Linked DNA regions of Homo sapiens: all the other regions are reported to be linked to region 2. Evidence: microRNA targets listed by miRTarBase, many of them from high-throughput screens and not tested one by one. Region 2 holds a microRNA gene; each other region holds the end of a gene's coding sequence.

Evidence for each region. Region 2 holds the annotated microRNA hsa-miR-4640-3p (CACCCCCUGUUUCCUGGCCCAC, at 1,155-1,176, opposite strand). A microRNA usually pairs through its seed, bases 2 to 8, with sites in the 3' UTR of a target mRNA and lowers its output. Matches are read on the target gene's strand: a 7mer-m8 pairs with bases 2 to 8, a 7mer-A1 pairs with bases 2 to 7 and ends in A, and an 8mer does both.
Region 1: miRTarBase lists ATP6AP2 as a target of hsa-miR-4640-3p. Seed matches in the 3' UTR shown: 7mer-m8 at 186-192.
Region 3: miRTarBase lists SMIM12 as a target of hsa-miR-4640-3p. The part of its 3' UTR that is shown has no 7-base or 8-base seed match.
Region 4: the mRNA of NAIF1 is a reported target of hsa-miR-4640-3p. Seed matches in the 3' UTR shown: 7mer-m8 at 2,392-2,398.

What each region holds. Positions count from the first base shown.
Region 1 is chrX:40,605,596-40,608,695 of GRCh38, forward strand. ATP6AP2 (ATPase H+ transporting accessory protein 2) reads left to right here. Exons shown (of 9, transcript NM_005765.3): 9 at 1-1,253. The coding sequence ends at 160. Among named protein-coding and RNA genes, the nearest start is that of MPC1L, 16 kb to the right of the region's middle.
Region 2 is chr6:30,889,020-30,892,124 of GRCh38, reverse strand. It overlaps MIR4640 (microRNA 4640), which reads right to left and starts at 1,242; the gene lies at 1,153-1,242. It overlaps DDR1 (discoidin domain receptor tyrosine kinase 1), which reads right to left. Exons shown (of 18, transcript NM_001297654.2): 4 at 2,695-2,923; 5 at 1,005-1,152; 6 at 646-745; 7 at 1-123.
Region 3 is chr1:34,852,912-34,856,016 of GRCh38, reverse strand. It overlaps SMIM12 (small integral membrane protein 12), which reads left to right. Exons shown (of 2, transcript NM_138428.6): 2 at 35-3,105. The coding sequence starts at 40. The coding sequence ends at 318. Among named protein-coding and RNA genes, the nearest start is that of SMIM12, 5.3 kb to the left of the region's middle. RefSeq lists enhancers at 1,496-2,366, 2,791-3,020.
Region 4 is chr9:128,060,799-128,063,892 of GRCh38, forward strand. NAIF1 (nuclear apoptosis inducing factor 1) reads right to left here. Exons shown (of 2, transcript NM_197956.4): 2 at 435-3,094. The coding sequence ends at 2,630. Among named protein-coding and RNA genes, the nearest start is that of NAIF1, 5.0 kb to the right of the region's middle.

The DNA.
Region 1 (3,100 bases), not on the chromosome of region 2:
GTATAATTTTGAATATTCCGTGGTTTTCAACATGGTACTTTGGATAATGATCGCCTTGGCCTTGGCTGTGATTATCACCTCTTACAATATTTGGAACATGGATCCTGGATATGATAGCATCATTTATAGGATGACAAACCAGAAGATTCGAATGGATTGAATGTTACCTGTGCCAGAATTAGAAAAGGGGGTTGGAAATTGGCTGTTTTGTTAAAATATATCTTTTAGTGTGCTTTAAAGTAGATAGTATACTTTACATTTATAAAAAAAAATCAAATTTTGTTCTTTATTTTGTGTGTGCCTGTGATGTTTTTCTAGAGTGAATTATAGTATTGACGTGAATCCCACTGTGGTATAGATTCCATAATATGCTTGAATATTATGATATAGCCATTTAATAACATTGATTTCATTCTGTTTAATGAATTTGGAAATATGCACTGAAAGAAATGTAAAACATTTAGAATAGCTCGTGTTATGGAAAAAAGTGCACTGAATTTATTAGACAAACTTACGAATGCTTAACTTCTTTACACAGCATAGGTGAAAATCATATTTGGGCTATTGTATACTATGAACAATTTGTAAATGTCTTAATTTGATGTAAATAACTCTGAAACAAGAGAAAAGGTTTTTAACTTAGAGTAGCCCTAAAATATGGATGTGCTTATATAATCGCTTAGTTTTGGAACTGTATCTGAGTAACAGAGGACAGCTGTTTTTTAACCCTCTTCTGCAAGTTTGTTGACCTACATGGGCTAATATGGATACTAAAAATACTACATTGATCTAAGAAGAAACTAGCCTTGTGGAGTATATAGATGCTTTTCATTATACACACAAAAATCCCTGAGGGACATTTTGAGGCATGAATATAAAACATTTTTATTTCAGTAACTTTTCCCCCTGTGTAAGTTACTATGGTTTGTGGTACAACTTCATTCTATAGAATATTAAGTGGAAGTGGGTGAATTCTACTTTTTATGTTGGAGTGGACCAATGTCTATCAAGAGTGACAAATAAAGTTAATGATGATTCCAAATTTGTGTCATTGCAGTACTAAATCTATTTTATATTGTAAAAACCTAACAAAACAGGCTTTTCTTTCATCAGGATTGGCTGTTTTGTTGTACAGATAATTTCATGGTGTTTCTTTTACACTTGTTTATTCTCGCTGCCTCCTGAGATTTAGTACTAATGTAAGGAAGGCATTTTAATTACCATTCTTGTTACTGAATTTATATAGGATATATGAGAAATGCATACTTTATGTAGGAAAGGGTTACATTTTTCTATAGCTTTTTTTTTTTTAAATTAAAAACATTTTAGAGACCAGTCTTGCTAGGTTGCCAGGCTGAACTCCTGGCCTCCAGTGATCCTCCTACCTCAGCCTCCCCAGTAGCTGGGATTACAGGTGTGCACCACTGCACCCGGCCCTGTAGCATTTTTAAAGATGAATAAGCAACTAATTGGTTAGAATATGAAGGACTGTCTCAGGTAAAGGTTTAAGGTAACAATTTGTTTTCTTTTTCAAAAAACAGGATCTTTAACTTCATTATTATATAGCAAGATTATTTTAGTATGAGCATTGTAGCCCTGACCCTGGGATCCTTCCTTGTATTTAGTATTAGCTGTTTCTGCATCTTCTTTGCAAAGATCATCAAATTATTTATACATAGCATTGAGTTTGGCAGGTTTGAGAAGGTAGGGTTTATTTAGTTGTCAATTACTGCAAGATGCCCTTGACAATTACAGTTTCAAACCCCCATAGAGTGAAGGAAATGTTGGTTTTCTTTTTGCCTCTCATTGAAGTATAAATAATAGGGAAACTGATACTCAGCTTCACAGGGAAGAAAAACTACATTGTTCTAAAATCACTCTTCCATCCCTACTTCCTGCCAGAGTGATGGGGGTGAGGGTTTTCAGCTGTTTATCACCAAAACAGTTCCCACTCTGACCCCATGGAACGCAACACTGCCTAAGTGTAGGGAGCAGGAACCTATCATGCGTCAGGGTGGTTAGAATCCATTTGTCTTTCACAACTTTCTTATATAAACATTGCCGGAGAAGTTAGATTGTTATGATTAAATATGAAATAAACCAATGCCTTTTTAATTTAAAACTGATGAGACTTTAAGTTCTAGGGGAAGAAAAAAAAATTAATTACATGACAGCACTAATCCATATAGGGTAAATGGCATCAGCATCCTTCTATCTATGTTAGGCAGAGAGCAATTCATTAAAATAAATGTTCTGCCAAGATTATTATACCTGTTGCTGATGATTTGCTCTTAAATTAAGTCTAATTTGCTCAGGAACATAAATCACAGTGTCGATTTGTGTGAGAGGCAGAAAAGGCAGACTCATGGCAGACGATTCCACTGACAAAGAGAAAACCCAATCACTTTACATCTCATTGGTGGACTATTCTAGGTTTATAAAATATCTGAGATTCTGCATATGTAGATATTGCTTATGGCCTAATTCTATTAGGAATAATATAGAATTGATTTTTATTTTCTTTGGTTATGTGTTTTTTTGAAGGAATAATCTGAATCCATTTTCATTGATACCAAGTAATATGGAAACTGTAAACTTACTTTTTTTTTTTTTTTGAGACTGTATCTCACTCTGTTTCCCCGGCTGGAGTGCAGTAGTGCAATCACAGCTCTACAGCATCAACCTCCTGGGCTCAAACTATCCACCCACCTCAGCCTCCCAAGTAGATGGGACCACAGGCATGTACCACCACGCCTGGCTTATTTCTTGTAGAGATGGGGTCTCTCTATGTTGCCCAGGCTAGTCTTGAACTCCTGGGCTCAAGCAATCCTCCAGCGTCAGCCTCCCAAAGTGTTGGGATTACAGGCACGAGCCACTGCGCGCCCAGCCTAAACTTAACTTTGTTAGGGGGACGGAGTCTTGCTCTGTCAGCCAGGCTGGAGTGCAGTGGCACAATCTCGGCTCACTGCAACCTCTGCCTCCCAGGTTCAAGTGATTCTCCTGCCTCAGCCTCCCAAGTAGCTGGGATTACAGGAACCTGCCACGATGCCTAGCTAATTTTTGTATTTTTGGTAGAGACAGGGTTTCACCATGTTGGCCA
Region 2 (3,105 bases):
AAGCTGTGGTTGCTCCATCCCACATAGTCATAGCCTGGCCAGACCCGCAGCTCCTGACTCTTCCTAAAGTCATCCAGCCCCACCACACCATCTGCCAGCTGGCCCAGACCCCCATACTGCAGTCTGGAGAAGAGGGGACCAAGGAAGAGGAGGTTGGAAGGGAAGAGGGTCTTGACATCCAGGCATTCTGCTCCGCCACCCTCCGGCACAGTGGCATGGCCAGCCTGGCTCCCATCCACTAGTCCCATTCCCATCCCACCTCACACTCATGCAGCTGGCCCTTCTCCTCTCTCCACCCCACCCCAGCACTACAGGTACCTTGCAGGTCACATCCAGCACAAAGGCACCACCTCTAAGGGGCACCATTTCAATCTATGATGTGTATATTTATTGCAGCAATTTCCAACAATGTGTGTTAGCAAAGGGGTGCCTTTTTCATACAGTGTCATACGGGCTAGTGGTCACCCTAGTGCTACCCTTTGAGGCCCCACCTAACCCATCCCTCTTCTCAGCTCTTCCATCTCACTCCCCACCCTACTTACCAGCCCCCCTACACACACACACTCTCACACACACACACACACACACACACACACAGTCCTCCCTCCCACCCCAAACTCCATATCCTGCAGGGGCCTTTCTTACCCGCCCACGGTATGTCCGTCATAGGTGGAGTCGTTGAGGTACACGGCCTCAGATAAATACATTGTCTGCCCCACAGGGGCGGTGTAAGACAGGAGTCCATCTGGGGCAGGGTGAGAGGATGGGGGTCAGAGGCACTAAGGCTCCATCCCCCATCCCTGCATCAGGCCTGGGCAGGTTTCAGGTCCCTTCTTGTATCTCTCCACTGGCTCATTGGCATGGAGGAGACAATGCTGGCTAGCCCCCTCCTCAGAGTGACAGCTTCCCAGCAGGAGAAGGGATCCTGGATGCCCATTCTCCACACTCCCCACCCTCCAGTCCCCTGCTCAGGAAACAGATTCCCAGGAAGCTGAGCCACTCACCCCTCCAGAGGCAGCCATAGAGCTCTACCCGCAGACAGACGCTCATGACCCGGTCAGCCCGGGGGTAGAAGCGAACCAGTCGGGCAACCATGGGGGGCCCAAGGTCCTTCAGCACCACTCCCTCAGGGTCCTCATTGCCTGAGATCACCTGTGGGCCAGGAAACAGGGGGTGGGTGGGATGGAGTCCAGGTCAGATCTTACTTCCCACCCACCAGCTGCTCCCTGGCCCAGCCCACAGTGGCCACTTAGAGACCCATGAGGGGTGGCACCGAGCACACAGCACTGTGGGGCGCAGCCAGGCATGGGTGAAATGAAGATCTGCAGCTGAGACCTCTGGCTCTGTCGCAGCTCTGATGTTCCATCCTCAGACTTCAGGCTCAGCTGCCCTCTTCTCCTTGCCTGGCTCCATCCATTTGTCTCCAAGCCTATCATCCCATTGTGCCCAGATTCTCCCCAATCCTCACAGCCCTGCACCCCTGCCTCAGCTTCCCCTTCATTTCAGCCCATTCCCTCTGTTCATTCAGCAGAAGTTGGCTGAGTGCCCGCTCTGTGCCAGGCGCGTTCTCAGTGGTGAACGTCACTCCCCACCCTTGTAGGACTGAGATCCCAGCAGGGAAAACAGCTGCGAAGAACAAGAGGCAGGAAGTATGGACAGAGCAGTGAGGTGGGTGGCCAGAAAAGGCTCTCTAAGGAGGTGACACCTGGCAGAGAACTGAATGGAGTGAGGGAGAGCCTGTGGTTATTTAGGGGAGGAGCTTTGCAGGCACAGAGAAAATGTCCAGAAGCTGTGGGAACGAGCCCTGGCTTGTTCCAGCAACAAGAAGAAAGGCAGCGTGGCCAAGGAGGCGCCAAGAAACAAGTGATGCAGGCAGGAGCCAGGTCAGGCTGAGCATCCTGCACCAGCTAGGGACTCAGCTTTTGTTCTGGCAGAGTGGAAAGCCAGCATGGGGGTGTCAGCTAGGTGTGACGTATCTGATTTACATGCTCTAAGGTCCACTGGATGCCGCCCCCCCAGGTGGAGATTTGACTCCAGGCAGAAAAGGGCAGAAGCAGGGAGACGCGTTTGGCATCTACTGCACTCATCTAAGCTGGAGATGGCGGGCAGGTGGCCTAGGGCAGTAGAGGTGGAGTGGTGAGGAGTGACTGGACTCAGGAACACTATGGAGGTAGAACAGACGGGGCTGCTGATGCTTTGGAAGGAGGTGAGAGAAAAAAAGGAATCAAGGATATCATCTTAACTTATAGCCTAGGCAACCAGGCAATGGTGATACCACTTCCTGAGCTGGAGAATGCCAGGGGAGGAGCAGGTTTAGGCTGGGAATGGGAATCAAATTCAGCTTGGGAAGTTAAACGTACGTTTGAGATGCCTATTAGACATCTAGGTGGCTGGCTACAGTGCTTGTAATCCCAGCACTTTGGGAGGCTAAGGTGGGAGGATCACTGAGCCCAGGAGTTCAAGACCAGCCTGGGCAACACAGCAAGACCCCATCTATTAGAAAAAAAAAAAAAGACATCTAAGTGGAGAAATCCAAAAGGTGGCCAGGTTTACAATATTGTTTGGAGCTCAGCTGAGAGGCTTAGTCTGGAGATGATATAAACTGGAGAGTCGTCAGCGTATAGGTGGTGTTTAAAGTACAGCTGGAAGTGAGGAGAGCCAACCTCCTCTGGGTGCTGCCCCTGCCAGTCTCACCTCCTGACCCCAGCGGTCCTTCCAGCCCATCCAGCGGCGACCATCCCGGGAGTAACGCAGCCGGTAGCTCCGGGAGAACTCCTTGCCCAGGCCCCCGGCATGCCGTCCCTGGGTGCCCACCAGAGCCACCAGGTGCAGTCGTTGTAGATCCACCTGCAAGTACTCCTCCTCCTTGGGAAACACCGACCCTGCGGGGCACCAGGCCCCATCCCCGTCACTGCTCTCCAACCTGAGGGTGAAGAGGGGCACAGAGAACATCTGGCCCCAGGTCTGCCTCCATCTCCAGTATTTAAACCCCACTTCATTTGCCCCCTCAGCCTGCAGGGGTTTCACTGGCATGGGCAGAGGGGTTGGAGGGGAAGTAGAGGTCCCAGGAGCTCCTCTCGGGGCAGCTACAAGTGTGCCAGGTGT
Region 3 (3,105 bases), not on the chromosome of region 2:
GGGTTCTCTAATGCTGCCTTGTGCTTTTCCGCAGATGTCATGTGGCCTGTGTTTTGGACCGTGGTTCGTACCTATGCTCCTTATGTCACATTCCCTGTTGCCTTCGTGGTCGGGGCTGTGGGTTACCACCTGGAATGGTTCATCAGGGGAAAGGACCCCCAGCCCGTGGAGGAGGAAAAGAGCATCTCAGAGCGCCGGGAGGATCGCAAGCTGGATGAGCTTCTAGGCAAGGACCACACGCAGGTGGTGAGCCTTAAGGACAAGCTAGAATTTGCCCCGAAAGCTGTGCTGAACAGAAACCGCCCAGAGAAGAATTAATGGAGGACACAGGGCCCTATGGTCCTACTGTGGGTGGTGACTTGTCCTGCTACCATGTTGACAGAGCCCCAGAACCCACATCTAATTGGCTTTGTTGCTTATTCTGGCCCTTCCCACACCACACAGCCACACAAATACTGGCTGCTCCTTGATGGCCAGGCAGACCCAGCAGCAGCCGAGGGGCCAGTGAAGAGGAAGGCCGCATCTGTTGTGTGGTGGCCACAAGCACTCAGGCATCTGAGTTTACTGGTGCACTGCTGGGAGGAGAGTTATGAGATGAACATTGGCTGTCAATCTCTGTGGGCAGGCGGTTTGGCCTCTAGTGGGAATGGCTGGGATTTGGGCGTTGCCTTTAGGAGGGATACCTGCATGTCTAGTTCCAGTCTGCACTGGAAAGAATTCAAATATGCACCTGGCTCCCTTCACTATTTTGCCCTATCCTTTGTGCTCATTCTTACTGAAATCTGTCTTGTCAGCTCAGGAATGGGATTCCCCCAGGAAGGAAAGCACTTTTCTGTTCTGGGAAGCCCAGACTGTTCACTTTGGGGCAGGGACGAACATGTGCCTCGTGAATTTGCTTGAAAACAGTCACCATCTTCTACCCCCATCACTGTATAGTGAAAAACCTGATTAAAGTGGTATCTGAGAACCATAATGATCGAATCTTATCATCCAGGTGGTATTTGGGGGTCTTCTTAGGAGTTAGGCAAGTACAGGCATTTTAGAGCAGGATAACATTGGTATTAAAGGGTGCCAAGGAGCCCTGGAAACTGCTTTACTAGTGCGGTTGCACTGAACCCTGGAGGCACAGATTCCCAGGAACCTTTTTACCATTATTACAATTGGCTGCAGCACCTTCAAGTCTAAATGGAGGTAGACCTCACATACACACACATAGACGCCTTTCCCTATAAAAGTATATACGCACATTCAAGAAAATTTGGTAGGGATTTTAAAAAGGTCACCCATGTTCCCAGCTCGTTAATAACAACCGTTAACATTTTGTTGTCTTTTACTAATTCTCTGCATAGGTTTTAGAGATAGTTATCATTACTGTACATTTAATTTTATATACTTTTCTCACTATTATCATTTTCCCATTTTACATGGTCATCATAATTGGTTTTTTGGAGACAGGGTCTCACTCTGTCACACAGGCTGGAGTGCAGTACAATTACGGCTCAGTGCAACCTTGACCTCCTGGGCTCAAGTGATCCTCTCACTTCAGCTCCTCAAGTAGATGGGACTACAGGAGTATGCCACCATGCCCAGCTAATTTTTTTATTTTTTTGTAGAACCAGGTCTCACTATGTTGCCCAGGCTAGTCTCAAACTCCTGGGCTCAAGTGATCCTCCGGCCTTGGCCTGTAGTTTCTTTTTTCTTTTTTTTTGGAGATGGACTCTCATTCTGTCACCCGGGCTGGAGTGCAGTGGCGTGATCTTGGCTGACTGCAACTTCTGCCTCCTGGGTTCAAGCGATTCTCCTACCTCAGCTTCCTAAGTAGCTGGGATTACAGGCGTGCGCCATCGTGCCTGGCTAGTTTTTGTGTTTTTAGTAAAGACAGGGGTTTCACCATCTTGGCCAGGCTGGTCTCGAACTCCTGACCTCAAGCGATCCCATCTGCCTCGGCCTCCCAAAGTGCTGGGATTACAGGTGTGAGGCACCGTGCCTGGCAGTCTGTAGTTTTTTTTTGTTGTTGTTGTTGTTGTTGTTTTAAATATGGAGTCTCGCTGTATTGCCCAGGCTGGAGTGCAGTGGCGCGATCTTGGTTCACTGCAACCTCCACCTCTTGGGTTCAAGCGATTCTCCTGCCTCAGCCTCCTGAGTAGCTGGGATTACAGGTGTGCGCCGCTACGCCTGGCTAATTTTTGTATTTTTAGTAGAGACAGGGTTTCACCATGTTGGTCAGGCTGGTCTCAAACTTCTGACCTTGTGATCTGCCTGCCTTGGCCTCCTAAAGTGCTGGGATTACAGGCGTGAGCCACCGTGCCTGGCTGTAGTTGTTTATAATAGCAACATAATTGTCTATCAAGTGGGAGTATGACATAAGTTTATCCTGGACAATTTCCATATTGCTGGACATTTGAATTGTTTCTGGTTGGTCACTCGTTTAGATACTGCAACGAATATCTTATATGAAGCTTTTCCTGCGTTTTGGAATAAACAGTAAAAATAGTAAATGTCATTTTGGATGAAATGGGATAAATGAGCAGTTTTGAGGATCTCATGCATAACACCAAATGTCTTTCCAAAAGGGCTCTAGGAGTTTCTACTAAATCTTACCACTGAAGACGTTGCTGGTAAGGCTGTGAGGGGAGTAAAAGCAGAGAGCAGGAAGAAGCATAAGAAGCTGTTGCCTCTTGAAGCCTACTGATGTTTAACTAAAGTCAGCACAGGGCAGTAGTGAGCATTTGATGAATTGATCTGCCTCTAAAAGGGAGTGGGTATTGGCCCTGCTTCTTAGGTTCTCTCTCGTGAGGCCTGATGGTGTCCACAGGTGGGTGAGGGTGGAGTTCCTGAACAGTTAGAGGGGCCAGCTGTGAAGAGGTGCCAGCTGGAGGTGCCTTCCAGGACCTGGTGGTGGCCTGAGAGGAGGGAGCAGGTTGAGTCGTTGGCTTCTTCTAAGGCTCCCTGAGGCCTAGTGGGAATGCGGAAATGAGCTGCTGTTGCTTCCCAGGGAACAAATCGGATGGAACTTGGGAAGAGACTGTCAGCTACCAAGTAAGGAGATTTCTGGTTCTGGCTGCAGGTTCTGGCTGATGAGCAGGCCTTATCGGCACACCAGTG
Region 4 (3,094 bases), not on the chromosome of region 2:
TTTTAGTAGAGACGGGGTTTCACCATGTTGGTCAGGCTGGTCTCGAACTCCTGACCTCGTGATCTGCCCACCTCGGCCTCCCAAAGTGCTGGGATTACAGGCATGAGCCACAGTGCCTGGCCTGCCTCAGGTAATTCTTAAGAGTCCCAAACACTGCCTTAAACCAGGAATAGACTGACTTCTACTGTAAATGGGTCAGAGAGTAAACACTTTTGGCTTTGTGGGCCAGATGTCTCTGTAACTACTCAACTCTTGCTTTGGTGGTACAAAAAAAAAAAAAAAAAAAGCCACAGGTTCATAAATGAATGGGTGTGGCTGTGTTCCAATACAATTTTATTTATAAAAATAGGTGGTGAGCCTGATTTGAGTTTGTGGGCCATCGTCTGCCAGTCCCTGGTTCTCTTCTATATATAAGCAATAAAGACACAGAGATGTGTGTATAAAAAAGTGATATGTCTTTAATTTAAAATTATGACCCGGAAATAACTAGTCAGTTTAAGTGATCCAGACTTCCTCTTCATACCCAAATGGAACAGACACAATATTGGCTCAGATTTCCAACCCCAGAAAAAAACCAAACCAAGTCCTCAGGAAGTCCCTGCAGCGACCTTGCTGGGGCCATCAGACCGCACAGAGTGGAGGTGCCCAAGCTGCTAGGCTGCTCTTAATCCAGCCACACTGAGAAGAGCTTTCCTTCTACCAGCAACTCCCTCGCTGGGTCCGATATCCCCCTTCACCTCCCTTTTAGCTGGCACTGCACGAATGCCTCCACAGAGAGGCTGACAGTACAGCAGTCACCTCCCAGCTGTCTTCGGTGCATCTTCAGGGCCACCTTCCTGTGGTCACAATAGAGGAGTTGAGCATTCTAAACGTTCGTGCCCAGGAGGGCAGCGTCTTCTCTTTTTAGCTGAGGTCTGGAGCCCTGAGTTGTAACCATTGGTCATATGTGGCTGAGGCACCGACAGCAAATCGCCAAACTTGGGAAACGATCTGGGGAGATGCAAGGGCCTTGGTAATTGATGGTGAGTCTGAAAATGAAACAGACAAATGGCATCTGGGTAAAATCCTTACAGACATCTCAGAAGAGAAAGTGTAAAGATGGAACAGGGAACAGCACCTCCTTCAGCACTCCAAGGCTCTGCCTGCTCTTCCCTGAGCATAGAATCCAAAGGGTCCCATTTGTTTTTTTGGTTTTTTCTTTGTTTTTTTTTTGAGACAGAGTCTCGCTCTGTCGCCAGGCTGGAGTGCAGCGGTGCAATCTCGGCTCACTGCAATCTCCGCCTCCTGGGTTCAAGCGATTCTCCTGCCTCAGCCTCCCGGGTAGCTGGGACTACAGGCGTGTGCCACCACGCCCAGCTAATTTTTGTGTTTTTAGTAGAGACGGGGTTTCATCATGTTGGCCAGGATGGTCTTGATCTCTTGACCTCGTGATCCACCCGCCTCGGCCTCCCAAAGCGCTGGGATTACAGACTTGAGCCACCTCGCCCGGCCAGGGTCCCACTTCTTAGGTCAGCTTCGCCTTTTCCTCCTCCTACGTTCAGGGTCAATTATGGCTTTGGATTCACTCAGCTACTCAGAGGGAGTCTCAAGAGAACAGAAGGCACTGAGCGGTGTGGCAGGGGAAGAGTCCAGCATGTGATGCTCAGCAGGGCTTTTTTTGCACTGAATTTTGGAAATGTGGAGTCAGCAGAGAGGAAAGGAGGATGGGTGTGGCCACAGGGCAGCCTTCCTGGAGGCCTTCCTAGGAGGGGTTCACACACAGAATAAATACAACTGGCTGGATGCAAGCCTCCGCACAAAGCCAACAGGTCACTCAGACCCACTGCAGTGGGGCAGCAAGCTTCCACACTAGTTGGCTTTCTCAAAAATTTACAGCATCCAAAGCTTGACCTGAGTCAAAAGCTCTAGGGACAAACCACCAAAGGGCTGCCCAGAGATGCTGTTGAAAACCAGAGAGTGGCCAAACCGTCCCCACCATACACAGCATTCCTGAGCCAGACTGGCTGCACACTGCATGTATTACGGAGGCGTCCCAGCACACTACCTAACAAGGGCCTGCGCTGTGCCTGGGGTGGGGTCGGGGGAGAGCACAACAGTCATTGGAGTCCCCTGAGAACTGAGGCACAGTGAGGAGAAAAGGGTGGGGTTTCCTCCTCAGTCACACTACCTCCCAAAGGAGGAAGATATTATTGCTCAACTGCCAGCATCAGTGACATTACCCTACTCGAAAGGATGGCACCTGGGGTTGGGCAGCTCAGTAGAGACCCAGGCTGGGTGACGGCCCCCAGTGACAGCCCGTTGTGTTGTTCCTTACAGTTGTCCAAGACCAAGGCTGGGTCATGTCACAAGCCCGGGGTCATGACAACACATGTCCCATCACATGCACACGTGACCCCCTGCTAACCAATCTTCTGGATCTTAGCAAGGCAGCTCAAGTAGGGGGAGTATGAGTTTGGGTCCCAGGAGCCCAACAAATTCCTCTTCTCAAAAACAGTGCAACCCCTAAGCGTTTATTAAAGAGGGAGCTGTGCACGTGGCCGGTCTAAGGCCAAGGCCAATCACAGGACCCACTTACAAGTCCATGGAGTTTTCATCCCATCATGGCAGAAGGCTGGCCTGACCCCTGCCCTCACTGGATGATGCTGTCTGGCTGCCCATTCTGGGCCACCTGCCCAGGGTCAGAGGCGGGGGCCGGGTTAGCTGTGTTGCTCTGCAGGTAGCGGCGGAAATCTTTGATCATAGGCCGGAGGACCTGGATGAGGACGCTCAGGGCAGCCTGTGTGCCCTCCATGGCCTGGGCCTGGCGCTCCTGGGCACAGGCCTGCACTTCCTGGGAGCGGCGGATCATCTGCAGTAGGTCGTTCTGCTGTTCCAGGTGCTGTGCGATCTCCTTCACATGCAGGTTGGTGACCCGCTGCTCCTGTATCAGCTTGGCGGAGTTGAGAGCAATGCGGCTCTTGAGCGCTTGCGGCTTGACCGACGTGTCTGCATGCTGGGCCATCATGTCCACAGGGGTCTCTGGTGGCAGAGGTGGGGGCGCCTCAGCCGTGCAGTACTCCACCACGCCCTCCTCCAGCGTGTGATAGGTGGTCTC